Regions from separate parts of the Homo sapiens genome. Here all the other regions are linked to region 4. Evidence: fine-mapped expression QTL. A gene starts in region 4. Each other region holds a variant in brackets. All regions are shown on one strand. Distances are between the middles of the regions. Region 1 overlaps PRPF4 (pre-mRNA splicing tri-snRNP complex factor PRPF4). Region 2 overlaps WDR31 (WD repeat domain 31). Region 3 overlaps BSPRY (B-box and SPRY domain containing). Region 4 holds the start of BSPRY (B-box and SPRY domain containing).

Region 1 (8,105 bases), 63 kb before region 4:
AAATTCAGTAGAAAGTCCTCTGCCTGATTTCATCCTATTACCGAATGAATTCACCTTCCTTCTGGGCAGTTAAAATGGAGAAATGACAGTTATAAGAGGAGTAGAATGCTTCAGATTTGACCTTTCTGCTCTTAATTTGCCTTTCAGTATCAGCAAACCTGGTATCATGAAGGACCAAATAGCTTGAAGGTGGCAAGACTATGGATTGCTAATTATTCGTTGCCCAGGTAAAGAGAGCCTCCAGTAGAAGAAAGAAGCATATTTTTTGTGTGTGTTTCCTCTCAGGAACTGAGTGCTGGATAATGACTATGGTTGTTAAATGAAATTGAGGGGTAGAGTAGGGATACATGTGGGTCCTTGTTTACAACCCTGTTGCTCCTGGTGATGGTGTTTCTGTGTCGCAGGGCAATGAAACGCTTGGAAGAGGCCCGACTCCATAAGGAGATTCCTGAGACAACAAGGACCTCCCAGATGCAAGAGCTGCACAAGTCTCTCCGGGTAAGATGCTCCCAGCAATTGTCCCACATCTTAAAGGTTCTTCATGTTTATTTGATTTTTCTACTTTGGCTCACCTCTGGGAAGGTAGAGGCAACTAGAGTGATTCCTCCCTGCTTAAGTTGAGCTGCTGTGACATGGAAGGAGCCATCAGTTAATGTGGCAGGAGCTTACTGTGCTTTGTATTCAGCAGAGGCCTATGGTTCTATTCTTTATTTCTCCCCGTTAATATGTCAGAGTTTCTCTGGGGTTTTCTGTTTATATTTAGCTGACTCAGAAGTTGTGATCCTAAGACTGTAGAAAACATCTGGGCACAGTGGCTCAGTCCTGTAATCCCAGCATTTTGGGAGGCAGAGGCAGGCGGATGACTTGAGCCTCAGGAGTTTGAGACCAGCCTGGTCAACATGGTGAAACCCTGTCTCTACTAAAAATACAAAAATTTGCCAGGTGTGATAGCATGTGCCTATAATCCCAGGTACTTGGGAGGCTGAGACGGGAGGATTGCTTGAACCCGGGAGGCGGAGGTTGCAGTGAGCCAAGATCACGCCACTACACTCCACCCTGGGCAACACAGCAAGACTCTGTCTCAAAAAAAAAAAAAAAAAAAGACTATAGAAAACAGCATGCTGGAGTTTCATATAACTTCATTTATCAATGTATGTGTCTTCTAACAGCAGCAACAAAACCATAGAAGAATCTTGGGATGGGTTAAAACTGAAAAGCTGCTTTGTTGTTCTTTTTATGGTGGAAAAGCAAAGGAGCTCTTAGATTAACCTATTAATGATCACCGTGTGTGTATTTTTTTTCTTTTTAAGTCTTTGAATAATTTTTGCAGTCAGATTGGGGATGATCGGCCTATCTCCTACTGTCACTTTAGTCCCAATTCCAAGATGCTGGCCACAGCTTGTTGGTAAGTTCCATTTTACAATGACATTTTTTCCTAAATGGGGAACAGGCTCAGGAAGAAAATTAGCATTTGCGTTAGACGTCTATTTCTACGTCCTCTTTCTCTGCTTCTCATGATCACACCAAACTACAGATGTCAGTCAGTGCTCTACCTGTTGTATAATACAATGTAGCCTTGGTTTAGCCGTTCTCGCTCTTCACCAGTGACCCCAGAGATCCATTACACAAAGCACTCTGTCACATTCTTGACACTAGTATTTTGGAACAGGTCCTGTAGTGAGTTTATAGACCAACTAGTATCCATAACTCAGTCTGGCTTTTCTTTTTCAGTTATGTGACCTCGCTAAGATACTTAATTTCTGTAAGCTTCAGTGTTCTTACCTGTAAAGTGGGATGAGGTAGTGTTTGCAAGGCATTTTGCCTTGACAGTGCCTGGTATGTAGTAAGGACTCGTTAAACGTTAATTATTGGTTTATCTTTGTTTTATTTTCTTATCACCACATATGCAGAAAACTCAGGATGTGGTAACTTTGTTGTTTTGTTTGAGTTTGGTTGTGTTTTTCTGTGGGACATGGCTATCTAATGAGAAAGGAAACTTAGATTGAATACACAGGAGCTACTTGACTAGGCTGACCTTTAGATGGGTTCAGGAGAAAGCCAAGGTTCTGCACAAATGAGTCCACCTCTCCAAGCCTCATTACCTTCACTATAAAGTTTGATCGTTCCTGCCGTACCTGCTTCACAGGTCTGTTAGAAAGATCATCCGAGATAATAGATATAAAAGTAATTTGTTGAAAAATTTCCAAAATAAGAAGTCTCTAAAAAGTTTAAGGCCAGCCAGCCATGGTGGCTCACACTTGTAATCCCAGCACTTTGGAAGGCCACGGCAGGAGGATCACTTGAGCCCAGGAGTTTGAGACCAGGCTGGGCAACAATAGTGAGACCCTGTCTCTACAAATTTTTTTTTTTTTTTTTTTTTTTTTTTTTTTTTTTTTTTTTTTTTTTTTTTTTGAGACGGAGTGTCACACTTTCGGCCAGGCTGGAGTGCAGTGGCGCGATCTCGGCTCACTGCAAGCTCCACCTCCTGGGTTCACGCCATTCTCCTACCTCAGCCTCCCAAGTAGCTGGGACTACAGGCACCCGCCACCGCACCCAGCTAATTTTTTGTATTTTTAGTAGAGACAGGGTTTCACCGTGTTAGCCAGGATGGGCTCGATCTCCTGACCTTGTGATCTGCCCGCCTTGGCCTCCCAAAGTGCTGGGATTACAGGTGTGAGCCACAGCGCCTGGCCCAAAAAATTTTTAAAAATTTATTTAATTTTTTAAAACGTTAGCCAGGTGTGGTGGCATGCGCCTGTTAGTCCCAGCTACTCAGGAGGCTGGGTGATAGAATTGCTTGAGCCTGGGAGGTTGAGGCTGCAGTGAACTGTGATCACACTACTGCACTCCAGCCTAGGTGACAGAGTGACACTGTTTCTCAAAAAAAAAATTTAAATACTTTGTAATCAGCAAAATACTATTCATATTTAAGGACAGTATCACTATTAATATTCGTATTATTGGATAGTTTAATTTGCCCCACCTTCCCTCACAAGTGGATCCAAAAGTTAAGGAGAATGGCTACTGGTGTAGTGTTAATTATAGTCCAGTAAAAGCCTCTGGTTGCGTGTGGGCTGGAGGTAGCTTTTTCTTCTATAACCCTTCTAACTATAAGGCTTTTATTTTTCTGTCAGCCATTGTAAAGTTTATTGGGGGTGAGAAGAGATTGTCCTTTAGTAATATTACCAAGGTACCTTTTCCTTCCCAGACCAACCCTGGCTGAGATGCTTTCCTTTGTATTTGATAGGAGTGGGCTTTGCAAGCTCTGGTCTGTTCCTGATTGCAACCTCCTTCACACTCTTCGAGGTAAGTTAGAGTCTTATCCAAATCTCGGTCTTTTTCCCAGTGTGAACTCAGTTAAGCCTTAAACTCTGCTTGACACTCAGACCCCATACACACAGCATTAATCCTTGATTTGATTTGACTTGGTTTTCTCTGGCTGCAAGACTGGACTATCACAACTTCCTACACATCCACTTTTCTCTCATGTGCAGTCACACTCTGGCATTTTATAATCTCTAAACCAAAAACCAAAATGGGTTTTTTTGTGTTTTGCTTTTTTAAAAATGTAATTTAAATATTAGCTTAAATTAAAATAGTTCATGTTTTAATAGTTGAATAGTCACTTGAATACTCTGTATGTCCACATGTTCCCTAGTATATAACATGGGTTATAAAGAGGCAGGAACCTTTTAACTTGCATCTCTTACACTCCTTTAGGGCATAACACAAATGTAGGAGCAATTGTATTCCATCCCAAATCCACTGTCTCCTTGGACCCAAAAGATGTCAACCTGGCCTCTTGTGCGGCTGATGGCTCTGTGAAGCTTTGGAGTCTCGACAGGTGAATATCACTGTTCTGTGGCCCATACTGCCATCACTAAAGTAGATGTTTGATTGGTTGGTCCCCAGGACCTCAGTAAAAATCTGGCATTTAGGCCATGCGCAGTGGCTCACACCTTAAGGCTGAGGCAGGAGAATTGCTTAAACCCGGGAAATGGAGGTTGTGGTGAGCCGAGATTGCACACTGCACTCCAGCTTGGGTGACAGAGCAAGACTCCGTCTTGAAAGAACAAAAAAAAAAATCTGGCATTTAACCCCCAAGATGGTTTAAGAGTCAAGGTAACCTAGTGTGAAAATGAAGTAAGTGGAAGATTTCATTCTTAGGCCTTTTCTTACTAAAGGAGTTATGTCCGTTTTTTCTTACCTGTTAACTTTGGATCTTGATTTTTGTCTATAGCCTAGTGACCACTATTTCCTAGCTCCATTTATTCCAGAAAGATCCAGCCTACCTCCTACATGATAAATTAACAATGAACTAAAT[A/G]TAATATTCTTGGCAGTTCGTTGGTTCTTAGCAAACAGCCACAGGGGAGAGGAAAGTGAGGTTCTGTCTAGCAGTATTACCACGGAGATGTCTCCTCGCAATAGCATCATCCTTTACCTAGAATGTATTTTCCAACTACAACAGTTTTTAAAAATGTGTTTATGTGATTGTTTTCCAAAAAAAAAAAAACTTCGGAAGCACCCTGTTGGCCAAAAGGCATCTGAATTTAATTGTTTAGTTTTCTTTCTTTGGGAAAACACATGAAGGTTTTTACTTGAGAATTTTTATGAGAGCTAATTAATGTCTTCACTCCTCACCAGACAGGGTCTCACTTAGGAGCGCAGTGAGTTTTAATTGGCTTTGGTAATACTTAGCAATGTTTATTCCCCTTGGGCTTTGGCTTGTTCTGTGTATGCACATTGACAAAGTTCCCTTTTTAATTGCGTTCCTTAGAGTTCATGTTTATTTCCTTTTGCTGATGTTCAGATCTTTTGGTGGTTGCTGGGTAGCAGAATTTAATGGCCACCAAAAGGAGACTAAGCCTCATCTCTATTTAGGAGTTCCTTTTTCATTTGGATCTTGGAACAGGCCTAAATTTGAAAAAGGTTTATCTGTAATCCACTTGTACCAAAACTATGTGATTTCTGTGTCCTTATATCTCTTCCAAAGCATGTTTTCTTTCTAGAATCCAGGTACTCCTTTGGTGCAGAATGACTATTTTGCTTATTGGGCCAAAGTAGTTTACAAGTGTAGTTACAATTTAGCCTCTCGTGTTGTACAGAATGGGTATGTCTGCACAGAAGGTAAGCAGTTTTGTGACTATTTATATGTCTATAAAATTGTTTATATGTTTGGTTCCTTTCCAGTGATGAACCAGTGGCAGATATTGAAGGCCATACAGTGCGTGTGGCGCGGGTAATGTGGCATCCTTCAGGACGTTTCCTGGGCACCACCTGGTGAGCCATCCTGTTATTGTTTTATCCATATAGGCCTGTAGCATCTTCTTAACCCTTTATGGCTATCTGCCAGGTAAATTTTTAGAGCAGAGATCTTCAGGTAGGATTTTCTTGGGCTGCAGGGAATTGGAATCAGAGGAGAATGTTTAATATAGTGAGAGCTAAGTATATTTGCCTTTTTTTTTTTTTTGAGGTGGAGTCTCACTCTGTCACCCAGGCTGGAGTGCAGTGGCGCGATCTCGGCTCACTGCAACCGCCGTCTCCCGGGTTCAAGCAATTCTCCTGCCTCGACCTCCCGAGTAGCTGGGACTACAGGCGCGTGCCACCATGCCCAGCTAATTTTTTTATTTTTAGTAGAGACAGGGTTTCACCATGTTGGCCAGGCTGGTCTTAAACTCCTGACCTCAGGTGATCTTCCCGCCTCAGCCTCCCAAAGTGCTGGGATTATAGATAACAGGTAACGCGCCCAGCCATATTTGCCTTTAAATTACAATTAATCTGAAATTTCAGAGTTACAAATTACCAGAAAACAAGGATTTTCACTCTTGTCCAATGCTACAGGTATATAAGTCTCCCTTCCTGGTTCTGTAAGTTCAGGGAGGCTAGAATCTGTTAGAGAACTTTTCCATTAAGTTATAATTTACATACAATGGAATGGATTTATTTTAAGTGTACAATGCTGTCAGTCTTTACAAACGCGTACCATTCCTGTGATCGACACCTCTGTCAATATAGAGAATAGTCCATCACCCCAGAAAGGTCCCTCATGCCCTTTTCCAGCCAACTCCCCCTTCTAAAGCAACTGCTGATCTGACTTCTATCACCACAAATTAATTATGTCTATTCATACTGTGAATTCATTTGTGGCAGGCTTCTTTCAGCATAACATTGTTAAGAGTCATTCATGTTGTTGCATGTATCAGTAATTCCTTTTTATTGCTGGGGGTTATTCATTTTTATGACTGTGCCATAGTTTATCCATTCTCCTGTTGATGGACACTTGGGCTGTTTCCAGGTCTGGGCCAGTCAGAATGAAGCTGCTATAAATATTCTTGTACCAGGCTTTTTGTGGACATGAGTACAATTGCTGGGTCATAGGGTAGAGGTATGAGATGTATATTTAACTTTTTCTAAACTCCCCACCAGTTTTCCAAAGCGGTTACACCATTTTACATTCCCGGAGTTCTGGTTACTTCACATCCCTGTTAACATTTGGTGTTGTCAGTCTTACCATTTTGCCCAATCTAGCAGGTGTGTAGTGATCTCCCGTGATTTTCATTCTTATTACCCTGATCATTATTGCTCTTGAGTGCTCTGTCATATGCTTTGCCTGGTTTTTTAAATTGTGTTTGTCTCTTTTGTCTTTATTTCCATGTGCATAGTCAGTTATACCACCTTGTATTGAAGAGACTTTCCTTTCTCTGTTGGAATTGTTTCAGTACCCTTGTTGAAAATCATCTGACCATATATGTGTGGTTATTTCTGTACTTCCTATTCTCTTCCATTGATCTATTTGTGTATGAGTGATTTTTGTATCCCCAACATCCAATTTAGGGCCTAGTAAATGTATAAATGCTTGATGAATGAAAGAATATAACAGTGGAGGAAGAAAGAAGGTAACAGAGTCTTTGCTGGGCCATTCTTGGGGAATCCTGTTATTACAATAGCCACTAGGTTGGGCATGGTGGCTCACACCTATAATCCCAGCACTTTGGAAGACCACGGTGGGTGGATCACCTGAGCTCAGGAGTTCGAGACCAGCCTGGCCAACATAGTGAAGCCCCATCTCTATGAAAAATACAAAAATTAGCTGGGCATGGTGGCGCACACCTGTAGTCCCAGCTACTCAGAAGGCTGAGGCAGGAGAATGGCTTGAACCCGGGAGGTGGAGGTTGCAGTGAGCCAAGATTGCGCCACTGTGCTCCAGGCTGGGCAACAGAGTGAGACTCTGTCTCAAAAGAAGAAAAAAAAAAAAGCCCTAGAGGTTTACAGCGATTCCATGGTTTTCAGCTAGCACCTAAGGCAGATAAGCTTAGTTGTTGAGTCATTGTTTATGTCAGAAAGGAGCTTCCTGTTAATATGGTTATATGAATAGTTTCAGAAGCATTAATAACTTAAGCTATAATGGCTTAGAATACTTTATGTGTTGTAGAAACTGAATAAATATCAGCTGGTTGATTGTTAGTGTGATTTGGTTTTAGCTATGACCGTTCATGGCGCTTATGGGATTTGGAGGCTCAAGAGGAGATCCTGCATCAGGAAGGCCATAGCATGGGTGTGTATGACATTGCCTTCCATCAAGATGGCTCTTTGGCTGGCACTGGGTAAGGCTTCTCCCATGTAGTCAGGGGCAGTTCAGTACTCTCACCTCTTACCTATACCTGCTTCCACAGAGAACTGGATTCAAAGTGTTCATTTCTAAATTATTTTCTCAGGGGACTGGATGCATTTGGTCGAGTTTGGGACCTACGCACAGGACGTTGTATCATGTTCTTAGAAGGCCACCTGAAAGAAATCTATGGAATAAATTTCTCCCCCAATGGGTAAAATAAACACACTGAATGAGGGGCGAAAAAGGGTTCTGGGTCAGTAAGTACTCTATTTCTAACTTCAATACTGCATCCAATCCACAGCTATCACATTGCAACCGGCAGTGGTGACAACACCTGCAAAGTGTGGGACCTCCGACAGCGGCGTTGCGTCTACACCATCCCTGCTCATCAGAACTTAGTGACTGGTGTCAAGTTTGAGCGTAAGCTTTCCTCCTATTTTACGTCTAAATGACACAGACAAACAGTATTGTGTTCCCGTGGAATGCAGGCCAG
Region 2 (8,105 bases), 27 kb before region 4:
CACTCTCATTGATACAGATCAGATCACAGCTGGAGAATAATGTTCAGGGAGGAGAGCAAATTGAATTATGTCCAAAAAGATAATGAAGTTATTGGACAGCATGTTATCCAGGGAATAGCTGTAGGAGCTGGAAATGTTTCACTTAGAAAAGAGATGCTACATTCAAAGGCTGCAACACCCCAATCTACCATTTACTAGGGATGTGGTCTTGTGCAAGAGATGTCAACTTGCCATGCCTCTATTTCCTTGTCTGTGAAATGGGAATTATAATAGTACCTAACTCATGGGGTTGTTTTTAAGGATTAAATGAGATATTACATGTAATGTGCTCATCCCAGTGCCCAGCACACAAGAAATGTTCAATAAAATAGGAGGCATAATTGTTCTGTTTGAATACTAGATAACCCTTTTAATGGATATTCTACAATTATGAATCTAAGGTGCTTTGGAGGAGCCTAGGCAATCTATTCCAAAATTAAATGTAAGGAAGGTACATGAGTAAGGGATGGAGTAGGCCCTGGACCAACACTAGAGCTCCAAATTTCCTAAAAAGCTTGAGCTTCTTTTACTGTGGCCACGCCTATAATGGGAATAAATCTGGTTCTTCAAACAGTCCCTCCCCTCTCTAAGCTCTGCTGGGAGTAGAGACATCAGCAGGCTGGTTCTGTGTTTAGCTCCTCCCCATCTTGACTCTCATCCCATTCCTCTTTCCTACTACCAATTCAGAGAGCCCTAAGTTGATGAATGTTTCTTTTATTTTCTTTCTTTATTTTTTTGAGATGGGGTCTCCCTTGTTGCCCAGGCTGGCCTCAAACTCCTAGGCTCAGTTGATCCTCCCACCTCAGCCTCTGAATAGCTTGGACTACAGGCACATGCCACCATGCCCAGCTAACTTTTTATTTTTTTATAGAGACAGGGTCTTGCTCTGTTGCCCAAGCTAGTCTCAAACTCCTGGGCTCAATTAATCCTCCCGCCTTGGCCTCCCCTATGAATGTTTCTTAAATGAAGCAACTGGAATGCAAAGGATCACTCACAGTATGCTTTTGAAAGAGGCCTGAGCCATTAGCAAAGCCCGCCTGTGTAGCACAGCTACAGGCATGAGGCCAGAGTAAGTGATCTGTTCATCAGCAACCAGATACCTGGACCTCACACAGTCTCCTACCGTGGCTTCACAGCCTTCTCCTCCAAAGCCATTGCTGCAGGAGATACACTTGTGTCCATCCACACTGACTTCACAGTAGGTCTGAATGTGCTGCTTTGCAGGAAACATATGAGCTACCTGCAGCCCCCGACTGTCCCATAATCTGAAAGAGATTAGGGCAGGAAATTAGCTTGTAGTAAATGTGGCTGAAATACACCCGTATTGTCCCACTACCAAAAAAGTCTTGGCTCTTTGCTGCATAGGCCAGTCAGATTGGAATGGCATGATTTACCTAAAAACGGCAGCATGAACCAGATCAATCTCTGAGACTCTAAAGTTGGCAGGAAGTAACCAAATTGAATGACATCTGAGTTCTTTCTATTTTGAGATCAGTTAATAGAAATTGAGACCAAGCATCTTAATTGTACAAGTTAATTTGTTAATTTGGTCCTTTGAGACACTGCTTTCCGTGGACAAAAGGATATTTCTGTGCCTGTGACTTAAATTTTTAAAAAGATACTTATTATGATATGGGAAATCAGTCATCATTCAGAATTAGTTACAAAAGATTTACATACAGGTCATGGCCAGCCTTGGCTATGGGGTCCACTGGGGAGTGTTTTGTTTTGCTTCTTATTTCATTTTTACCTCTTTACCCCATTCCTACCATTTTCTAAGGAGAATCTCTTCTGAGATCCAAAGTTTCTAGTTATCCTCTCCGGTCTAAGAACTATTGGCTTTACTGACTCCCCTGATGCTGATTTCAACCCTGCTTCCCCAGGGAGGGCTTCAGCTGAAGGCTGGGTGACTGAGAACACCAGGAGCCATGCAGGGGTAGCAAGGAGAGCCAGGCAGCCCAACAGGGTGGGACAAGCAAGTGACTGATTCTGGGGTTAATCTGAACACCTTCACACAGCAGGAGCTGGCTGAATCAGATGCTTTGGAACCATCCAAAACAGGGGCTTTTACTTGGCCTGATCTCATGACACACAACCTCTACCTTAATGATCCATGGGGCCAAAGCAGAGAGGCCCCAGCACCAGTGAAGGGCAGAGGAACAGAAGGCTCTGGGAAGGGCAGAGCAATGTGGAGAATCAGAGTGGGAATGGAGCCATGTATGCATGGGAGCCACAAACCTCACAAGAAACACTTTCACAGCTGCTCAGTAAGCCCACCTGAGGGTTTTATCTTCAGAGGTCTGTAGTATGTATGGTTCTCTGGGGACCCAGCACAGGTGAGTGACCTAGAAAAAGCAAAATGTTCAGAACTTCTCCACACCAAGTCATTCCTCTGCTGTAATTCCTGTCAAATGTGCTAACTAGCATCACTGTGCCTCTTCTCAAGGATTCTGAACTAGCAAATTCATTTACAGGCATCTTAGGTTTTGCAGATACCTATCAGTCATGCTCTACCTGCATCTCCTAGGTTATCAGCAGCAAGATAACAGCTGGGCCAGTTGTGAGCACCAAAATACATGCAGGCACCCTAAGAGTGCCTGAAACCCCAGCTGTGTGGCAGATAGAACAGCTCCTGTTGTAAGGTGGGTTCACTGAAACTCTAGCCCCAACACCTCATGGGGATCAGGAAGAGCATTCATGTTTCTCTTTATCCCTGCAGGTCCCTGCTGGATAGGCATAAAATAGTTTCCAAAATAACCCGAAATAACAGGATTTTCTTTTCTTCCAGTAACCTCCACCAATATAGAGGGCATGGGGCAAGCATATCTGACCATTGGCAGTCATCTTCAAAATTAGAAAAGATGACTGGGACTGAAATTTGACAACCACTAAAAGAACATCTAGTATGGGTCAGACACAATGTCAGGTATTTCACATCTAGTATCTGAATTCATCCTCTGAAGAACCTTAGCAGGTGATAGAATTCTCCCCATTTTATAAATGAAGACACAGACACTCTAAGAGCTTAAGTAACTTCCTTGAGATAACATAACTGGTAAGTAATAGATCCATGATTTTAACCTGAGTATAACTGACTCCAAAGGCTCTCCAATTTATACCAGTCTGCTACTAGAAAACAACTGGTCCTTCAAAAGCAATGCAAATTCTACATAAAGCAAAAGGTAATGCTTATTTCTCCACATGATGTTACACATATGAACATACAATAAGCATAAGCTGTGAGGTCCTGGAAGACAGGAACTATGTTCTTGGTCACTAACCCTGTTCCTAGCACAGTGTCTGGCCCACAGAAGAAACAGAATAATGAAAGAAATAATGAAGACACCATTTTAAATTCCAATATAAGTGAGTAAAATCATTGTCTGGAGCAGAAGACTCAAGGGAACATCTAATCTAATAACCCTGAGAGGCCAGGGTCTCACAGCAGGTTAGGGGACAGCAATTGGGACCCAGGCTCTAATTTCTGCTCATGGGCCTCCTGATTTATCTCCCGAGCCTTTCCTTCACCCCATGCTCCTTTCTGCTGCCCTGTTCTGTACCAAGTTTGAGTTCATACCACGTTCCTGGAGACAGATGCTCTTTCCACACTCTGTCCTGTCACCACATCCCACAGAAGCAGGGTGTTGTCCCGAGAGCCAGTGCACAGCTGTGATGAGTCTTTGGAAACAATGGTGAGAAGACAGCCTGTGAGTGGGGACCTGAACGGGGCTTTTCAGAAAGCACAAAGGCATTGGGAAGAGGTCCGCTTTGTTTTACCTGGACTCACAGCCAATCCGGTGACCACCATGGCATGGCCACACAATTGCTGCCTTGGTTGTGAGGAACCGTGCAAGTCCCACATCATGACCATCCTGTCACGAGAGGCACTGAAGAACTGGCTGGATTTGGGAATACAGGCTACCTGCTCAGGGAAAAAACAACAACACTGAAATAGCTCTGGTATGCTAGTTGGACTGGACTTTAAATTGGGGGAAAGATGAGTCTGCATAACTCCCTCCCCACACACACTTCTTTTCTTTTTTTTTGAGACGGAGTCTCACTTTGTCACCCAGGCTGGAGGGCAGTGGTGTGATCTCAGCTCACTGCAACCTCCACCTCCTGGGTTCAAGCGATTCTCCTGCCTCAGCCTCCCGGGTGGCTGGGATTACAGGCACCAGCCACCACGCCCAGCTAATTTTTGCATTTTTAGTAGAGACAGGGTTTCACCATGTTGGCCAGGCTGGTCTCCAACTCGTGACCTCAGGTGAGCCACCCACCTCGGCCTCCCAAAGTACTGGGATTACAGGC[A/G]TGAGCCACTGTGCCCGGCCCCCACACACACTTCTCAAAAGAGTAATACCTAAGCTTGAAATCTATGAATGCACAGCATGGGCCAGTCTGAATTTCCACCTTTATCAATGTTGTGCTACCTTTCCTTTATGTAGCAGATTTCCTCCTGTCCTTCAGGGTAAGGTTAAAAATCTCACCTCCTCAGATCATGTCACCTTGGTGAGGATGTATCCCCTCTTGGGCTTCCTATAGAACTTCCTCCTGTGGGATTCCTTTTGCACTTGATCATCACCACACCCCAAAAATGGATGCTGTACTGTTATGACAGGTGATTCTGTTATACTTACGAAGAATTTGAAGTGAATCTCTGTTCCATTTTATGCTTTTTACCTTGAATACAACTTTGCTTGATATTATTATCATCCCAACTCCTGCTCTGTTTGTTTACATTTGCCTGATATATCTTTGCTGACCTACTCTTCCTGTTCTGATCTCTTCCATCGTGTTTCTTTTTTTTTGGAATTGTGGTAAATATACATAAAACTTACCATTTTAACCATTTTTAAGTGTACAACTCAGTGGCAACAAGTACATTCATTGTTGTGTAACCATCACCACTATCATCTCTAGAACTTTTTCATCATCCCAAACTGAAACTCTACAACCTTTAAACAATTACTCTCCATTTTCCTCTCCCCGCAGCCGCTGGCACCCACCATTATTCTACTTTCTGTCTCTATGGACTTGACTATTCTAGGTACCTCAAATAAGCAGAATCATACCATATTTGTCCTTTTGTGTCCGGCTCTTACTTAGCATAATGTTTTCAGGGTTCAGCCATGTTGTAACATGTATCAGAATTTCATTCCTTTTTTTTTTTTTTTTTTGAGACAGGGTCTTGCTCTGTCACCCAGACTGCAGTGCAGGGACCTGGTCTCGGTTCACTGCAACCTTCCCTTCCCGGGCTCAAGCAATCCACTTGCCTCAGCCTCCTGAATAGCTGGGACTATAAGTGTGCGCCACCATACCTGACTAATTTTTGTATTTTCTGTAGAGACAGGGTTTTGCCATGTTGCTCAGGCTGGCCTCGAACTCCCGGGCTCAAGTGATCTACCTGCCTGGGCCTCCCACAATGCTGGGTTTACAAGCACGAGCCACTGTGCTTGGCCTATTTCATTCCTTTTTAAGGCTGAAAAATAGCCCACTGTATGTATATTACCGCATTTTGTTTATCCATGAATCTGTCAAAGGACATTTGGGTTGTTTCCAGCTTTTGGCTATTATAAACAATGCTGCTATATATATATATGTGTGTGTGTGTGTGTGTGTGTGTGTGTGTGTGTGTGTGTGTGTACAAATATCTGTTCTATATTTACTAACTGTTTTACTTTCAATCTTAAAGCTGTTTTGCATTAGATATGTCTTATTTTTTATTTATTTATTGAGACACAGTCTCACTCTGTCGCCCAGGCTGGAGTGCAATGGTGTGATCTCTGCTCACTGCAACCTCTGCCTCCCAGGTTCAAGCGATTCTCCTGTCTCAGCCTCCTGCATAGCTGGGATTACAGGTGTGTGCCACCATGCCTGGCTAATTCTTTTTTTTTTTTAATTTTTAGTAGACATGGAGTTTTGCCATGTTGGCCAGGCTGGTCTTGAACTCCTGACCTCAAGTGATCCACCCGCCTTGGCCTCCTAAACTGCTGGGATTACAGGCATGAGCCATCGTGCCCAGCCTAGATATGTCTCTTTTAAACAATGTACAGGTGGCTTTAGTTTTTAACTCAGTAAGAGTACTGCCTTTCAATAAGTGAATTTATCCCAATTACATTTACTGCTATCATATATATGTTTGATCTTGTTCCTTCCATCTTTTCTGTTGGTTTTTGAAAAACACTTTGTCATATTTTCATTGTCTTCTTTTTCTATAAAATTGTATATTTGTTTTTAGAGTTATTTTTCCCTTTATATTTTTAATTTAAATAATATGGAACTTAAGTTCTTCTCATGATACCTCTGTATATGTATTAATATCCTTAAACTCATATTCTCAATGTATTAATTTCAGAAAGAAAACAGAATCTCCTGTAAGGAAAATTTTTTTTTTCTTTAATTAGCACAATTATATTACTTCTGGCTCGTTCCCACTTTTGTAAGTACTCTCTTGGATTTTTATCTAGTCTATTATCATATTATTAATATTTTGTATTTTATACATATAAATTTTTAAAAGAATTAAAACAATTACATTTCTTCTCATAGCCCTCGTTTTGACAATTCTTTAGACATAATTCTGTGTTTAATTGGATTGAAGGCTCATACAGTGAATTCAGTTTGGAACTTCTTTAATATTCATTGGCTTTATTATTCATCATTCATTCACATTCTTTATTTTTTATTTTTTATTTTTTGAGATGGAGTTTCCCTCTTGTTGCCCAGGCTGGAGTGCAATGGTGTGATCTCAGCTCACCACAACCTCTGCCTCCTGGGTTCAAGTGATTCTCCTGCCTCAGCCTCTCGAGTAGCTGGGTTTACAGGCATGCGCCACCACACCTGGCTAATTTTTTATTTTTAGTAGAGACGGGGTTTCTCCATGTTGGTCAGGCTGGTCTTGAATTCCTGACCTCAGGTGATCTGCCCGCCTTGGCCTCCCAAAATGCTGGGATTACAGGCGTGAGCCACCGCACCCGGCCCATTCACATTCTTTAATAATATACCTTCAACTATATTATTGAGGAATGCTTTGCATATGGCAAGATTTTACAAATTTAAGAATGTCTTCCCATTGCCTTTACACATGAACAACACTCTCCGCACATACAGATTCTTTTTCTTTCTTCCTTTCCTTTCCTTTCTTTCTTTCTCTTTCTTTTCTTTCTTTCCTTCTTTCCGTCCTTCTTTCTTTCTTTTTCTTTTTCTCTCTTCTTTCTCTCTCTCTCTCTTTCCTCCCTCCTTCTTTCTTTCTTTCTGACTGGGTCTCGCTATGTCACCCAGGCTGGGGTGCAATGGCACAACTATAGCTCACTGCAGCCTCCATCTCCCTGGCTTAAACGATCCTCTTGCCTTAGCCTCCCAAGTAGCTTTGACTATAGGTATGCACCACTATGACCACCGAATATATTTGTATTTTTATTTATAGTAGAGACAGGTCTTGCTATGTTGCCCAGGCTGGTCTTGAACTCCTGAGCTCAAGCAATCCTCCTACCTCAGCTTCCCAAAGTGTTGGGATTTTAGGAATGAGCTACCCTGCCTGGCCAATTTTTACTTTTTAATAATATTTTTTCCTCAAATATTTTCTCTCCCAGATAATTCTTCTATTGTCTTACTTTTTTTTTTGAGACTAAGATCTTGCTCTGTCGCCAAGGCTGGATGCAGTGAAATCATCACAGCTCACTATGGCTTCAACCTCATGGACTCAAGTGATCCTTCCACATCAGCTTCCTGAGTAGCTGGGACTATAGGTGCGCACAACTACATCCAACTAATTTTTTAATTTTTTGTGGAGATGGGGTCTCATTATGTTGCCCAGGCTGGTCTCAAATTCTTGGGCTCAAGCAATCCTCCTGCCTTGCCTTGCCAAAGTGCCAGCATTACAGGCATGAGCCACTGCACCTGGCTTGTCTTATTTTTTCAATTTCTTGTTTCATAGAGTACATGTTCTCTTAATTTATAGAGAGTAAAAAGCATTAATCAAATTTTATCTTTGCTTCTTGAGTAGTTCTTCCTTCAAAGTGTATTTTCATCTGACATTAGCTTGTTATATGTATATTTAAAAAAATCTA
Region 3 (8,105 bases), 19 kb after region 4:
ATTCAATATTAATACAGACTGATGGATTCTTATTTTATTCAGTGCATTATAATCTGTCACTGTTATTACTAATTTTGACATTCAGACTGTCCCAGATTTGGCCTGTAGAAGCCCTTTCAAGCTGGACCCTGTGTCCTTTTGAAAAGTTCCCATCATTCTTTGAGCACTTTCTTGCTCTCTTTCACAAGAAGCACAAGAAGAAAACCCCAGCTCAACTTGTGCTTTTCCTGCCCCTGAATCAGCTGCTTCTCCAGGGCACCTGGTTGTTTTTAGTGGAGAATGATATTTAGAAACCAAGATCTGAGCATTAAGGGTACTCAGTGACCTTGCTTCTAGGCCTCACTCAGCTCACTCAGCATATAGCAGATGGAACTAGGAAGGGAGAAAGAGAAAGAGAGAGAGAGAGAGAGTGTGTGTGTGTGTGTGTAGCTGTTTGATGCATGAGTTTGTGTCACAGCTTCTTTTTTTTTTTTTTTTTTTTGAGATGGAGTCTTACTCTGTCACTTAGGCTGGAGTGCAGTGGCGCAATCTTGCCTCACTGCAACTTCCACCTCCTGGGTCCAAGCGATTCTCCTGCCTCAGCCTGCCAAGTAGCTGGGATTACAGGCATGTGTCACCACACCCAGCTAATTTTTGTAATTTTAGTGGAGACAAGGTTTCACCATATTAGCCAGGCTGGTCTCGAACTCTTGACCTCAAGTGATCCTTCCACCTCAGTCTCCCAAAGTGCTGGGATTACAGGCATAAGCCACCATGCCCAGCCTGTATCACAGATTCTAATTCCAATGTAACACCTCAAGGTTTTTCCTTTGCCCTCTCCCTTTCTACATTTGTACCTTTTGTTATTTTACAGTGAGGACTCCAGCCCCCAACAACATCAGTATTTGCTCAGTCCTACAATACATACAAAGTTGTCCGAGCATTGCTAAGCCCATACTACTATTGAAAGGCCTATCCATAGAGTTCCAGATTTGTCTGTAGTTCTTTATGCCCCCAGGCTGAGCGAATATACTCTCAAAGTAGTGTTCAAAAGTTGTGAAGCCCCATCTAGCCGGAAACTCACTTATCTGAGAAGTGCCTTGTTGGCTCTGGTGTTTCCACGCTTGTAGCTGGGCTCAACTCTGACTGGACACTGCAGCAGATCCTGCCGCACCATCTGGGCATTCTGATCCTGGCCAGGGCCTGCTGTGTTCAGGCCCTTTTTCATTTCCACCCCTTTGGGGCCATGAGTTTTGTCTTCGGTACCATAGGGCAGCTAGCCCGGGTGGTTCGCTGTAGACTTCACTATGTTCAGCCTCACATTTGCCCTGGGATGACAGCTTAGCACCGCTGACATCAGCTCCTCTTTCTTCCCCACCTGTTGGCGGGAGCTCCTGCGTTCTGAGAAGATGGCAATAGACCCTCTGTTGTCCTGACCACAAAGAGCCTTTGTTACTAGAGCTTGCTCCCAGCATTTCTAAGGTTCTGTTCACCTTATACCTCCCAAGACAGAACAGTGACAGTCTTGCAAAGAGCCATCAGGGCACATGCCCCACCCCTGTGCCCACTCCATTTATGCACAGAGCCATGAGATATGGGGAGAGAGTGTGTGTACTCGGAACCACTGCCTGATCTCAACGCCATCTTCAGGATTGGAGGCAGTAGGAAAGGTCTTTCTCAGCACCTAGGTCAAAAGGCTGCAAAGCTCCATGGTAAACCCCTACTTTGCCCTATATTCCTTTGAGATTTCACTTCAGGTCAAGGAAAAAATTATGTTGAATGCTGCCTGGGCTTCATCCCAGTTTTGTTCTATTTTTGCATGGAGGCATGACTTGAATCTAGCTCCCCTTTTTAGCTCTGAATCTGTTCTGTCCTGTTAAATCAGATAACCACTACCTCCCAGGTTATAGCAAAGTTGAGGTATGATTCTGTAGAGAAAACAGCAAACCCAGGCCCTCACTGCTGATACATGGCAGTTTTCAACTCCTAGGCATCATATTGTCCCAAAATACCTCTCCAGCAAAACCCAGCCCCCATTGTGAGCTGAGGGGAGAGTTATTGAGAGCACACAGTGCCATGATTCATTTGTGGCTGGGGTGATAACTGATGGCCCTTTCCTCTGTGGACCCCTCAGGTGTTTGCATTTTTAAAGTAGAGGAGTGGCTGTACCTTCTGACAAAACCCAGGGAAACATGACTGCCCCAACAGGTCTGAGAGGGAGGTGAGATATTTTCCAGGCAAGGGCAAGATGTTGGAGTAGAAAGACTATCGTGCAGGGGTTCCAGAGGCCCAGGAGGTCTTAGCCCCAGCTCTGCCATTAACTTACTGAGGGACTCTGGCAAGTTGCTTCCTCTGCAGAGCACACCACCTTCAATTTCTAATACTGGCACCAAGAACACATCTTCCTATAAACTGTCCACCAGCTTTGCTAAAATTAAGGCTTCTGGGGGGCACAGGGGAAATGGCCACCTTCCCTTTTGGCCCAAGCACCTGTGTGGGGCCTGGATGCCACTCTTTTTTTTTTTTTTGAGACAGGGTCTCACTCTGTCACCCAGGCTGGAGTGCAGTGGCATGATCTTGGCTCACTGCAGCCTCGAACTCCTGGGCTTAAGCAATCTTCCCACCTCAGCCTCCCAGGTAGCTGGGACTACAGGTGCATGCCACCACACCCAGCTAATTTTTAAATTTTTTGTAGAGATGGAGTCTTATTATGTTGCCCATGCTGGTCTCAAACTCCTGGGCTCAAGTGATCCTCTCCCACATCAGGCCTTCCAAAGTGCTAGGGTCACAGGGGTGAGCCACTGCACCTGGCCCTAGCTGCCAATCTTGGTATCGCCTGATAGGAGATTTTACTTCTGTTCTTCTCTTCACCCCATATTGATCCAGATATATTTCCAGAACCATCCTGAATCTCTGTCTCTGTTTTTCCCCATATAAGGACCGAAGAAGCAGAGGGCATTTTGGATCCCCAGGAGTCGGAAATGTTAAACTTTAATGAGAAGTGCACTCGGAGCCCACTACTGACCCAACTCTGGGCAACGGCGGTTCTTGGGTCTCTCTCAGGTTAGGAGCAGTAGAGCCCAGGACCATTAGGACAACTGGGCTTCTGTCTGTCTGTCTGGGGTTCACTCCTGGTTCACAATGGGGACCCGTGCTTCTGAGATGATAGCTTAAACAAGTCATGCTGGATGCAGGCTGGTCAGTAGGGTCAAGGTTCCAGACAGGCCTGGGGCAGCTGGGCCAAGTCCTTCCCATTTCCGGACTAACATGTTCTGTGGTTGGGTCAAAGATAAATCTCATTCCTATAAGTCATGTCTTCCTTATATCCTGACCTACTAGGGCAGCCCAGTATTATTTATTGGAAACCTGGGGTTTCTCTTTAAGAAGATAAAATTGATGGCCAACTGAAGAACATCTGGACCAAGAATCAAACTGCCTGATTTGCCTCACTTATTCACTTTACACACACTGACTCAGGCCAACTGTGGGCCCCACCCTGTGCCACATGCTGGGGCCACAGAGGTAAACTGACATGGTCTTCTGCCTCCAGGAATTCCCATTTAGCACAGAGGTTCTCCAGAGCAGGCCTCCTCCAAGTTAGATGGAAGCTTCCATTCTCCCAATGGTAGTCTTTCACAATTCGTGGAACAGTTAGGTTAATAGACTGATTTTTTTTTTTTTTCAGTTTTAATCCTCCCTCCTCGTATTATCCTTACAATTTTGGTAGAAGCTGTAGCTTCTCTACTCTAGATTCTGGTATCAAATGATGCCTGATTTACCAGCAGTTTAGATATTTGCTAGAAATTGCTTATCTCATGCTTCCTAGCTCCCAGAGGCTGTGTTTCTAGGACACGTCCAATCTGGAGGCCACAGATATGACCAAGTAGAAAGAGTATAATCAGTGCTACGTATAGGAACAAAATGTTTTGTCTTCATTTTGCCCCTCCCACCAAGTCAGTGTGTAAACTTGGGCAACTCCCTTTTTCTCTCTGGGCCTTATTTCTATCAGAGTTTACAGTTGAGGGTCTTGACTGATAGTAACTATTGTTATGAAGGCTACAGTTTATAGAGCACTTACATGCTGGGCACTTTACATGTATGATTCTGTTTAATTCTCGTGATCACCCAGTGAGAAGTCCTATTTTGACCCCCGTTTTGCAGACAAGGCTCAGAGAGAGTAAATGGCTTATATGAGGTCACCATGCTAGTGAGTGGTGAGGAACCTTTTGCTACCTGGCAGGACCAGGTTAGGGCAGGGGTGGGCCCTCGGCAACTCTGAGAATTCTTTCTGGCAGGCACAGAGGACATACGGATCGATGAGAGGACAGTCAGCCCCTTCCTGCAATTGTCAGATGATCGAAAGACCCTGACCTTCAGCACCAAGAAGTCAAAGGCCTGTGCAGATGGCCCGGAGCGCTTCGACCACTGGCCCAATGCCCTGGCTGCCACCTCCTTCCAGAATGGGCTCCATGCCTGGATGGTGAATGTCCA[G/C]AACAGTTGTGCCTATAAGGTGGGCGTGGCTTCAGGCCACCTGCCCCGCAAGGGTTCTGGCAGTGACTGCCGTCTGGGCCACAATGCCTTCTCCTGGGTCTTCTCTCGCTATGATCAGGAGTTTCGTTTCTCACACAATGGGCAGCACGAGCCCCTGGGGCTGCTGCGGGGCCCAGCCCAGCTGGGTGTAGTGCTGGACTTGCAGGTTCAGGAGCTGCTCTTCTATGAGCCAGCCTCCGGCACAGTGCTCTGTGCCCATCATGTGTCCTTCCCGGGGCCCCTCTTCCCAGTCTTTGCTGTGGCCGATCAGACCATTTCTATCGTCCGCTGACCTCTGGCCACAGGAAGCCAGGTCCACCGCCCACCACCCTTTCAGGCCATGTTTCTACTCAGTGTGCTTTTCCCAAATGATGTGTGTGGTGTTTCTAAGAGAAACAGGGCCCATAACCAGTGGGCAGCTTTAGGAGGGATGGGGATCTGTTTCAGATCTAGGCATAACCTGTAAATCACAGGTGTCCAAACTTTTGGCTTCCCTGGGCCACATTTGAAGAAGAATTTTCTTGGGCCACATAAAATACACTAACGATAGCTGATGAGCTAAAAAAAAAAAAAAAGTCTGTGTATAATTTTTGTGATATCTGCCACCACAGATAAGCAAAAAAGTCCTTGCATTCAAAGGGTTGGAGATTGCTGCTTTGAGTGCTGGGTACCTGTGGGGAACCTACTACTCCCTGGGCCTTAGTCTCCCAAATCCACCATGCATCTGCCCCTCTGAGGGTGTCTTCACTTTGTCTCTGGCATCTAGCATGGTGCCTGGTGCATAGTGAGCATGCAATAAATATTTGGCAGGTGAGTGGATGGATAGATGGATAGGTGAATGTAGGTGGACAGGTGACTGGGTGGATGTTGTGGTCTCTGGAGAAGCACTGCCATTCAGCCTCCTGCTCCAGCTGTTCACATGCAGAAATGCTCTCTTCACAGGCAGAGAAGCCTGTGGCTAAAGTTTCCACATCCCATTAACTCAGTGCTTTTGTCTTTTTCATGACATGGCACATAGAGAAAATATTTTTTTCTAGCACACAAGAGCAACCTGAAAGGCTGCTCCTGGCCAGAGGACTCTGTCCCGGGGGACCGTGTCCTCCCCCATGTCCTGCCTAGGCCCTCAGAGGACCAGGGGATCATGTCTCCAGGTAACCCGACTGTAGCCCCTGCTGGCTGAGCTCCAGCCTGTGCCCACTGATAATAGCAGGGACGGCCTTTTCTCTTAGAGCAGCTGATAAGTTTCCCTACCTGATGGCCCCCTCTGACATAAACTGCACACCTGGGGTGATGGCTTAAAGCCAGAAAGAGCTGAGGGAGTTAAGAGGGCCAACCTTAGGGCACGTGGGCATTATTAAAGGTCTTAAAAGCATTGAAGATTTATTCCATGTTCTTTGTTGATAATTGGGTGTATACTGTACGCTGGCCTGTCTTCATACCCTTATTGCATTCTCGGAAATAAGTGGGTCGCAGCTCAGTGTAGCGGAAAGAGCCTGGAGACATTACCAAGACCCAAGGCAAGTCCCTTTATGTTTGTCTCCATGAGGAGTTCACCCTAGAACAGTGGTCTTCAAACTTTTGTCCAGGAACTCTCTTCAAAAGTAATCTTACCTACAACTTTAGGCTCCTGCGTCCAAAGAAGATGAAAGGCAGAGCCCTCCCCACTTTCTTTGGGAGCTGCAGAGCAGTTTGAAAACCACTGTTTATTAATTTTTTTTTTGAGACAGAGTCTCAAAGGGATGCTGAGGCAGGTGGATCACCTGAGGTCAGGAGTTTGAGACCAGCCTGGCCAATGTGGTGAAACCCCATCTCTACTAAAAATACAAAAAATTAGCTGGGCATAATGGTGCACACCTGTGATCTCAGCCACTCGGGATACTGAGGCAGGAGAATTGCTTGAACCTGGGAGGCGGAGGTTGCAGTGAGCCGAGATCGCAACACTGCACTCTAGCCTGGGCAACAGAGCGAGACTCCATCTCAAAAAAAAAAAAAACAACGAAATTACTGTTGCCTGGCCTTGGTGCCAGTCCCAAGGAAAACAGACCAAAAGGGGTTTGGTCAAGTCCCAAAGAGATCTTCCCTGCCTTTGCCTGGGCACAGCCCCTGCTCAAAAATCTGGGTCAAAGCCAAGGCTTTTCTTGGCACCTGAAGGCCCCCATGCCATTTTCTCCCAATCCACCAACCCAGCTCCTCACAGCAGCCTTCATTCCACAGTTCATCGGCCTGCTGCAGCAATGTCCTCCTCATCCCCCTGCTCATCTAAAGCCACCCCCAATGCCACTACTGAATTCAGCATCCATTCTAGAGCCCTCCCTAGCTGCTGGCACCAGAACACACTGCCAGCCTGTGTTTTTAATGTGTGGTATCCTCTGGCACTGGGCAAGGAACACAGATGTCCAGCAAATACCAAGTAGAACGGTGTGGGAAGGTGGGGAGGCAGGAGAACTTTTTGTTGTTTTGTTTTTAGAGACAGGGTTTCACTCTGTTGCCCAGGCTGAAGTGCAGTGGCACGTAGCTTACTGTAACAGAACTTGTGGGCTCAAGCGATCCTCCTGCCTCAGTCTTCCGAGTGGCTGGGATTAAATGTGTGTGCCAGCACACCAGGCTAGTTTTTACATTTTTTGAAGAGATGGGGTTTCACCATGTTGCCCAGGCTAGTCTCGAACTCTGGGCTCAAGTGATCCTCCTGCCTCAGCCTCCTAAAGTGAAAAAAGGAATTGAAAAACCCAACCTACTTCAACCTCCAGTTCTTCCCCCCTCCCTCCAAACCTATTCCCTACACTGCAGTCCTTGTTCCCCATACTTTCCTACCTCCACACTGGTCTCTGCGACTGGGGTGCCCTTTGAGATTGATATTCTTTAGGACACCTCCCCTATTCTCCCAGAATCTCCACTGTACCACGTTTCACATGACAAGCATCCTCATCTACTTACAACCTAGTGGTCAAGCCAATGGGCTTTGGATTCAGATGTGCCTAAATGGAATCCTGGTGTCTTTGCATGCTAGCTGTGACCTCGGGCAGGCTGCTTAACCTCTGAATTTCAGTTTCCTCATTTGTAAAGTTGTGGAGGGGGTCAAACCACCTAGGCCCAACGAGGTAGCTTTGAGGGTTATATGTGCATGGAGGTAACTCAGCACCTTACCTAACACGGGGCAGGCATATGTCAACAGGATTTCTTCTCATGACTGTCATGGGGTTCCTTGTTTAAATTCTCCCCTTCATACTATGTGGTGCTAATGGACAGTGTCCCTACAGAATGGCTTAGCATCCTGCTTTTCAAACTAAGCACTGACCCCAGGCTTCCAGAGGGTATTTTCAGAAGCTGAAAGAGAGACCTTAGCACCTCTGCTTCAACTCCAGCAGTTTTTCAGGGTCTGTTTTTAGTTTTGCATAATGGGGTTTCAGATCGCCCATAACTAAAGGACTCTGCTGCTAAAACCAAGTTTGAAAGTGCCTGGTTTTGAAGCTAGTGGGGCCCTCTGTGAATCCTTTGGATGTGAAGTCGACTCCTAGTGGAAAAGGGACACAGGTGTGAATGAGAATGAGGGAGGGCAGAGGCTAGGAGCTGGTTAGTGGGGGAAGGGTGAGAGCTCA
Region 4 (8,105 bases):
AAGCTGGTCTCGAACTCCTGACCTCAGGTGATCCACCTTCCTCAGCCTCCCAAAATGCTGAGATTACAGGCGTGAGCCATTGTGCCCAGCCTTTTCTTTCTTTTTATAAAAGATGCTGATCTCCACCCCTTGAATTTCTTGATATGCCACCTAATAAAGGGTTGCCACTGCCTTAGGGCAGTGTTTCTAGAAACAGTCAAGGGGCTCCTTTGCATCCTAGTCAAGGAGTGACTGCCACAGATGCAGCTTCTTGGCTTCATCCCAGACTTAATGGATGAAAATCTTACCGGAAAGTCTGCGTGTTTTACAACTCCTCCTCTTTCCCCTCCTGACCATCCCCTGTCCTCCAACGATTCCGAAGCCTGATAAAGCTTAAGAGCTATAACCGGGGAGTTTATGAGTATCCCAGATGTGTCCTGCAGGGCTTGATGAACAGATAGGGAAAGGGCGATTCTCCAGTTCCAGTCCAACTTGGCTCATAAGTGGTGAAACAGAGGAACCCGACTTGATAAAAGTAAATCTACTCCTACCTTAGCCCTTTGCATTTGCTGATGCCACTACCTGAAAGTAATTCTGGTGATTTAGGGGCTGTTTTCCAGATCCTGGACCTGGTAGGGCCAATGACTGCTCTAGGGCCACACCCAGTGAAGGCCCCCCTCCCCCCCCCCCACCTTTCCCTAAGGATTTTAACCCTTGTTCCTCCCCCTGCCCTCCACAACCTCTTTTCTTTCTTTTCTTTTCTTTTCTTTCTTTCTTTCTTTTTTTTTTTTTTTGAAACAGAGTGTTGCTCTGTTGTCCAGGCTGGAGTGCAGTGGCGCGATCTCAGCTCACTGCAACCTCCACCTCCTGGGTTCAAGCGATTCTCATGCCTCAGCCTCCCCAGCAGCTAGGATTACAGGTGTGCACCACCATGCCCGGCTAATTTTTGTGCTTTTAGTAGAGACGGGGTTTCACCATGATGGCCAGACTGGTCTCGAACTCCTCAAGTGATCCGCCTGCCTCAGCCTTCCAAAGTGCTGGGATTACAGGCATGAGCCACTGCTCCTGGCCACACAACCTCTTTTCTTTTTAGCCTTCACACAAAAAGCACCTCCTATTTTCTTTGTTTTCACCATAGGGTTTAATAATTCCCCATCCCCAGTCCTTAGAAGGAAAAAATTCTAACCACAATCTCTAATTACCATGGCCTATTTCCCTCCCCACCCCCAGAGGAGTGTAGATGCTGTTATGAGGCCATCACCCTCCCACTGGGATGCACTGGAAACTTCTTTAGATGCCAGGAAAGCAGCACCCCTGTCGCCAAAGAACCTCACACAATTTACATTCTGAAACCTGCTACAACTGTATTTACAGATCCTCACACATATAATAAAACCTTTTATTATCCCCTACTGTATATCAGACACCCAAAGTAAATACTTTGTAGACAAGATCTCATTTCATTCTTGAAGTAGCCCTCTAAGGTAGATGATAGTATTATTATCACCTCTGTTGTAGAGATAAGAAAACAGACACAGAAGCTGTGAGTAACCTGACCAAGATCCCATAGCTGTAAGCTGCATAGCTGGGATGAAACCAATGACTATATTTCACTCAGTGTTCTCTCTAATCATATGGTGTAATATTGTCTATCTGGGGTGACAATGTGTCCCCATTGGATGATGACACCACTGTGTACCGCTCTGGGTAGCTCTGGGGCTGTTAGCTGCCCTTACCCCTCAGGTGCTAAAGCAGTAGTGGCTGAGAAGGAAAGGGTTCTATCTCCTTTGTGTGGCCATTGCTTAGAGAAGCTTCAGAGTAGAGGTGCTAGAGCCCCTGTGAGCTATGGGATGTAATGTTTCTCTTTCGGTTTAGCTCCCGCCTGTGTTCAGTTCTGATGCACTCAGAGTACTCTCTGACACCTGAAGGCCTGGGCCCTTCCCCTTTTGAGAGAGTGCCCAGCTTTCTGCCAAGACTCCTAAGAAAGAATTTGGGGTTGGTGGCCGGGCGCGGTGGCTCACACCTGTAATCCCAGCACTTTGGGAGGCTGAAGGGGGGAGATGGCTTGAGCCCAGGAGTTTGAGATCAGCCTGGGCAACATGGCAAAACCCTGTCTCTACGAAAAATACAAAACTTAGCTGGGCACGGTGGCATGTGCCTGTAGTCCCAGCTACTCAGGAGGCTGAGGTGGGAGGATCACTTGAGCTGGGGAGGTCGAGGCTGCAGTGAGCTATGATTACACCACTGCACTCCAGCCAGGGTGACACAGTGAGACCCTATCTCAAAAAAATAAAAAAAAATAAAAAAAAAAAAGAAGAAGAAGAATTTAGAGCTGGAGAGCAGCGTTCTCCTTGTATGCCCAGACAGACTAGACTGGATCCCCAGCAGAGGGCTCAATCTGGGCTCAGACTAATATATAAGATCCTGAGGGTGGGAAAAGCCCTAAACAGCTCAGGAACATGTTAGCAGTTTTTCTTTCTGGGGTGGGAGTGGGTGGATTTTTCTTCCACATGCTTATTTGCATATTTTGTTTTCTTCGAAATAAAAAGGCATTACTTTTTTTCAATGCTAGTTTAAAAAGAAAACTCAAATATTCAAATTCAAAAAGTTTGGATGTAAATACTTTGGGAAAATCAGCCTAATACAGATATTTCTCACTGGGCCTCAATGTTCAATTTAAAAAATTATTAATTATAGTAACCTTAAGTCACACTGCCTAGGTTCCAATCTCATAGCTACCAATTAGTAACTGTGACCCTTGGCAAGCCACTTAACTTCCATAAAAATGGGATCCTAATAGTACTTTCCTCGCACTGTTAGTAGACACTTAGCGATTGCAGCTGCTATGTTCCAGATATTGTTTTACGTATTTAGCGTATTTACTCCTCAGACGTCTGGGAGGCAGGTACTCTCACCCCATTTTACAGCTGGAGTTCCCACCCAGTGAGCAGCCAAACGGGATTTGAACCAGGCAGTTTCTCAGCAGAGCCTTGCTTGAAGCTAGGCATCTAAAGCTGCCTCTCAAAAAGGGCAGTGGTCGGGATTACATAACAGAACGCTTGCAAAGCTCTCAGCGAAAGCCTGGCACTTAATAAGTGCTCAATAAAGTTTCCTACGGTCACAGTAATATTTGGAGTTTTATGTTTGTTGTAGAACAAATACGCATACAATCGCGATTTCATTCAACAAGGAATTTAAAGAGACCTGCTGCCCCGGGCGGGATGGGAGCGCGGGTTGGGTGGGAGGAGGCGCAGCTGCGGGGCGCGCTGGCGCACCGGGAGGGCCGGGGGCGGGGTCAGCCAGGCCCCGCCCGCCGCCACCTGCGACAGGTGGAGCGCACGGGGCGGGCGCACGGCCATGTCCGCCGAGGGCGCGGAGCCGGGGCCGGGGTCCGGGTCCGGGCCCGGGCCGGGGCCACTCTGCCCCGAACACGGCCAGGCTCTGAGCTGGTTCTGCGGCTCCGAGCGACGGCCCGTGTGCGCCGCCTGCGCGGGGTTGGGCGGTCGCTGCCGGGGGCACCGCATCCGCCGGGCGGAGGAGCGCGCCGAGGAGCTGCGGGTGAGCGGGTGTGGGCGCCGGAAGGCGAGGGCTCCGGAGACCCCGGGCGCGCCTGGCGGGACCCGGCAGGGACTGGGGAGCCTGGGGCTGGGCGGACTCGACACCCGGCCCCGGAGCCTAGGCTCCTCGGTGGCTTTGGCTGTAGGACTAGGCGGTTAAGGGTGTGGCCTCTGAAGTCAGGCTGGCCTGAGTTCGAATCTACTCCCTGTGAGTCACGTAACTCTGAGCCTCAGTGTCTTCATCTGTAGTTTGGGGACAACAACAATAATAATAGCGCGTATTTATTAGAGTTGTGAGAAATAAATAAGATAGTGGGTAAAATGCTTAGCGATAAGGGGATCCAGGCTCCCCAGGCCCCTTCCATTGCTCTGTTGAGGAAGCTGGGGCTGGCATGAAAGGCTCAGCTGCTCCAGTTCTCAGCGCAGGGTGTGCCCCAGCTCCCGCCCCTGTGGAAACTGACACTGATAAAATCCAGCGCGACCGTATCCCTTAACCCCTGGACTCAAAGCCCCCCTCCTCCTTTCGCCTCTTCCCCCTGCTCCTAACCCCTTCTGGCTTCTGGTGCGGTGATCTCTTTTTCGCTTTCAGGATTGGCCTTGACTGTACTTCAGGCTGGTTTAAGGGCTTCAGCTGGATAAACGGTGGGGGTAGGGAGAATATCAGGGGATTCCCCTTCACCCAGGCTTTCTCGCCACCTCCACTTCCAGCTCGGCTCCAGGGTGGCCACCTCCTTGTCATCACCATTCTCCTGAGCTGCTGAGATTGGGAGAGTCGAAGTCACCTTGGGCTTCTCTGTGGCCCCTGGGGATTTCCTTGCAATTTGATTAAACAGCTTGTTTCTCCCAACCCGACTCTGCAGTTCACCCCTGCTGTGAAGCCTGAGGGCTCTGGCTGGGGACTTCGCCTACCCAGAGTGACCTGTAATAAACACATCTTATATAGGGTGCTGGGCTCGGGAGGGGTTCAGTTTTTCAGCAACACCCAAAAGCTCCTGGTTCGTCCTACCTGTTACCTCTATCAACAATAATGATGACAAAAATAAACCTGGATAACGCGGTGTAATCAACTTGCATAATGGACAAAAAAATTTGCAAACTCCAAAGTACTTAAATGTCTGTCATCTCATTCTGTCTTGACCACGCCTTTGAAGGGGTCCTACCTACATTTTACAGATGAGGCACTGGAGGCTCGGAACAAGGCAGTAACTCCTCCAAGCTTCCTAATGTTCAGGGGTGGGACCCAGGGAGTCATTGACTAGGCAAGAGGAAACTGCTGCTTTGCTTCGGCGGTTGGAGGGAGGAAGTGATGCTAATGGGGGTGAGAATGTCATGGAAACCTTAAAAGTAGCTATCAGGACTGGATTTGAGTGGTGGAAAGAGTGAAGCCTCGGGCAGGTGGCAGGCCTGGTGCTAGTTTCGGTACTACCCTAGGGAACCTTCTTTGAACCCCTCTGAGGCCGTATGCATATTTATCTCCTTTGCCTGAAGGGAGGTGGGTCTTACCCTCTCTTCCACCAAATTAGAGTAGATTTCTGTCTTTTGCACATTCCTTCCTCTATCCATCCAGTCAGCAAATAAATCTCACCCTAGGGCAAGATTATTACCAAAACCAGCACCAGTTCTACTGCTCTCCTACCTCTGGATTCCTGCCCTGTGGTTTTTCAGAAGCCTTCTCAGTGCTCTTAGTCCATGGTGCATGGTGATCACAGCTTCCTCCTAGTCAACTCAATTCTGTAACTTTGTATTTGGACCTATGAAATGTAACTAATTTCTACTTCTGGGTGGAAAGATTTACAAGGGCTTCCTGGAAGAGGTAGCTAAGTTGCCTTTTGGCAGATGGAACTGAGGCAGAACTCTTAGGGGGAACAGTGGAGGGACTGCTGCTTGGATAGGCTCTAGGTATCACCTGGAGAAACGGAGAGCAAAAGCAGGGCCCTGGCCCATACCTTCTTGGGGAAGTCACTTCTCTTTGGGCCTCAGCTTTCCCGTTTCTTTCTCTTTCCTTTTTTTTTAAAATTTATTTACTTATATTTATTTATTTTTGAGACAGTCTCACTCTGTCACCCAGGCTGGAGTGTGGAGTGCAGTGGTGCTATTTCAGCTCACTGCAACCTCTGCTTCCTAGATTCAAGAGATTCTCCCACCTCAGCCTCCCGAGTAGCTGGGACTACAGGCGCATGCCACTACGCCTGGCTAATTTTTGTATTTTTTGGTAGAGATGGGGTTTCACCACGTTGGCCAGGCTGGTCTCGAACTCCTGATCTCAGGTGATCCGCCCACCTCAGCCTCCCAAAGTGTTGGGATTACAGGTGTGAGCCACCGTGCCCGGCCAGCTTTCCCATTTCTAAAACTCCCCTGAGCTCATGGATGATGCTCATAGCTTTGAGAGCCATGAACTGCTGAACCTCTTGTGGTCAAGGCAGTGGGTGTTCGTTCATTCAACAAATATTTATTCAGGGCCTTCTATGTTCAGAAACTCTCTTTGAGGTACTAGGACATAGAGAAGTCAGACTTATGGTGCTTCTGTTCCAGTGGTGGGGGAGACAGATACCCAAAAAGGTAAACAAACACATAATATATAGTCAGAGAGTTATAAGTGCAAGGGAGAAAAATAAAGCAAAGTAAGAGATTGGGTGAGGAGGGAGATGGTCAGGGAAGACCTCTCTGAAGAGATGACATCTGAATGCAGTTGGGGAGTGAGACACACACACACACACACACACAGACTGGTGGAAACGGAACTGCAGGTGCAAAGGCACTGAAGTCAGGACAAGTTTGGTACATTTAAGGAACAGAAAGAAGGCCAGCATGGATAGAGGTAGAAAGTGATGTTGGAGAAATAAGCTGAGTCACATCAGGTGGGGCTAGGTTGGCTAAGCTAAGAAGCCTGATGTCATTGTGAGTGTACTGAAAGCCATTGGAGGGTTTTGAGTAGGGGCATGACCTGGTCTGATTTCCTTACAAAAGGTGGCTCTGGCTAGCTGGGGGGTTGGGGGTGCAGGGTACCCAGTTAAGAGGTTCTAACAGTGGTTCCTGTGAGAGATCATGGCAACCTGGATAGAATAACTGGAGTAGAGGTGACCAGAGGAGAGAGAGAGACTTTGGAGATGGGGTTGATAGGACTCACTAATGGAATTGATGTGGGGTTGGAGACAAACTCCTGGGTTTTTGGTCTGGGTAACAGGTGAATGATTGATGGTGCTGCTTAATGAATGAGGATAACTTGGCAGAGAGCAGTTCTGGACAGAACAGAAGGTATGGACAGTCAGGCAGCTGAGTATGACGGAGGACCAAGAGTGTGTGCGCCAGAAAGTGGTTATAACGGGCTGAGCGTGGTGGCTCACACCTGTAACATCCCAGCACTTTGGGGGGCTGAGGCGGGAGGATTGCTTGAGCCCAGGAGTTGGAGACCAACCTATGCAACATGGCAAAAGTCCATCTCTACAAAAAATGCAAAAAGTAGCCAGGTGTGGTGGCACGTGCCTGTAGTTCTAGCTACTCAGGAAGGACATGGGAGGATCACTTGAGCCTGGAAGGTCAAGGCTGCAGTGAGTCTTGATCATGCCACTGCACTCAGCCTGGACGACAAGCAAGACTCTATCTCAAAATAAATACATAAATAAATTTAAAAAGAAACAAACGCCTGGGTGCGGTGGCTCACACCTGTAATCCCAGCACTTTGAGAGGTCAGGGCGGGCAGATCACCTGAGGTCTGGAGTTCGAAACCAGCCTGGCCAACATGGTGAAACCCTGTCTCTACTAAAAATACAAAAATTAGCTGGGTGTGGTGACACACACCTGTAATCCCAGCTACTTGGGAGGCTGAAGCAGGAGAATCGCTTGAACCTGGGAGGTGGAAGTTGCAGTGAGCCGAGATCGCACCACTGCACTCCAGCCTGGGCAACCGAGTGAGACTCTGCCTCAAAAAATAAATAAATAAAAAAAAATAAAAATAAACACAAGACAAAATGGACTTTAAGGCAAACATAGTACTAAAGATAAAGTCACTTAGAGAATGTGCAGTTCACCAGCAACATATAATGATTCTAATCTTAAATGTTTCTAAATAATATAGCCTGAGAATATTCATAGAGCAAAAATTTGTTTTAAAGTTATTATAATGATAGGCTGGGGTTCTGGGATGAAGACGGAGGTGAGGTCACAGAAGGGGATGATGGACAGTGAAAGGTAGTCCCACTAGTGTGTTGGTGGCCTCAACTGAGCTGTTGCTGGAATAGGTATCCTAGAATTAGGGAGTGAGAAGGATAGGGCATGGTGGGGAGAGTGTGGATCCTTGAAATGGAGATTTAGGAGGTGGTACAGTTTTTGATAATGATGAGATCTGGGCTATGACCATGGGAGTGGGTGGCTGACATGTGGTAACAGGAGAAAATCACTGGGATGGAGTGAATGGCTCAGGTACATGGACCAAGATGCCACAAGCGTTGTTTGTGTTGCAGAACAAGATTGTGGACCAGTGTGAGAGGCTGCAGTTACAGAGTGCTGCCATCACCAAGTATGTGGCGGACGTCCTGCCGGGGAAGAATCAAAGAGCAGTGGTAATTCCTC

Evidence for each region. PIP is the estimated chance that this variant, and not a neighbour inherited with it, causes the effect.
Region 1: its variant is the best candidate, but not a certain one, in a credible set for the expression of BSPRY in whole blood (INTERVAL, PIP 0.66).
Region 2: its variant is the best candidate, but not a certain one, in a credible set for the expression of BSPRY in anterior cingulate cortex (GTEx, PIP 0.71).
Region 3: its variant is the best candidate, but not a certain one, in a credible set for the expression of BSPRY in lung (TOPMed, PIP 0.74).

Annotation. Positions count from the first base shown.
Region 1 is chr9:113,282,985-113,291,089 of GRCh38, forward strand. PRPF4 (pre-mRNA splicing tri-snRNP complex factor PRPF4) reads left to right here. Exons shown (of 14, transcript NM_001244926.2): 5 at 148-227; 6 at 405-498; 7 at 1,311-1,405; 8 at 3,248-3,306; 9 at 3,721-3,844; 10 at 5,191-5,280; 11 at 7,482-7,604; 12 at 7,716-7,823; 13 at 7,914-8,032. Among named protein-coding and RNA genes, the nearest start is that of PRPF4, 11 kb to the left of the region's middle. The variant A/G (reference allele first, on the strand shown) is at 4,325.
Region 2 is chr9:113,319,195-113,327,299 of GRCh38, forward strand. WDR31 (WD repeat domain 31) reads right to left here. Exons shown (of 11, transcript NM_001012361.4): 6 at 3,817-3,961; 7 at 3,617-3,717; 8 at 2,317-2,384; 9 at 1,163-1,304. Among named protein-coding and RNA genes, the nearest start is that of WDR31, 17 kb to the right of the region's middle. The variant A/G (reference allele first, on the strand shown) is at 4,348.
Region 3 is chr9:113,365,342-113,373,446 of GRCh38, forward strand. BSPRY (B-box and SPRY domain containing) reads left to right here. Exons shown (of 6, transcript NM_017688.3): 5 at 2,918-3,042; 6 at 4,275-5,881. The coding sequence ends at 4,801. HDHD3 (haloacid dehalogenase like hydrolase domain containing 3) reads right to left here. Exons shown (of 3, transcript NM_001304509.2): 3 at 8,081-8,105. Among named protein-coding and RNA genes, the nearest start is that of HDHD3, 7.6 kb to the right of the region's middle. RefSeq lists enhancers at 4,077-4,577, 4,578-5,078. The variant G/C (reference allele first, on the strand shown) is at 4,471.
Region 4 is chr9:113,346,244-113,354,348 of GRCh38, forward strand. It overlaps BSPRY (B-box and SPRY domain containing), which reads left to right and starts at 3,298. Exons shown (of 6, transcript NM_017688.3): 1 at 3,298-3,537; 2 at 7,997-8,095. The coding sequence starts at 3,337. RefSeq lists silencers at 3,266-3,335, 3,366-3,645, 6,273-6,322.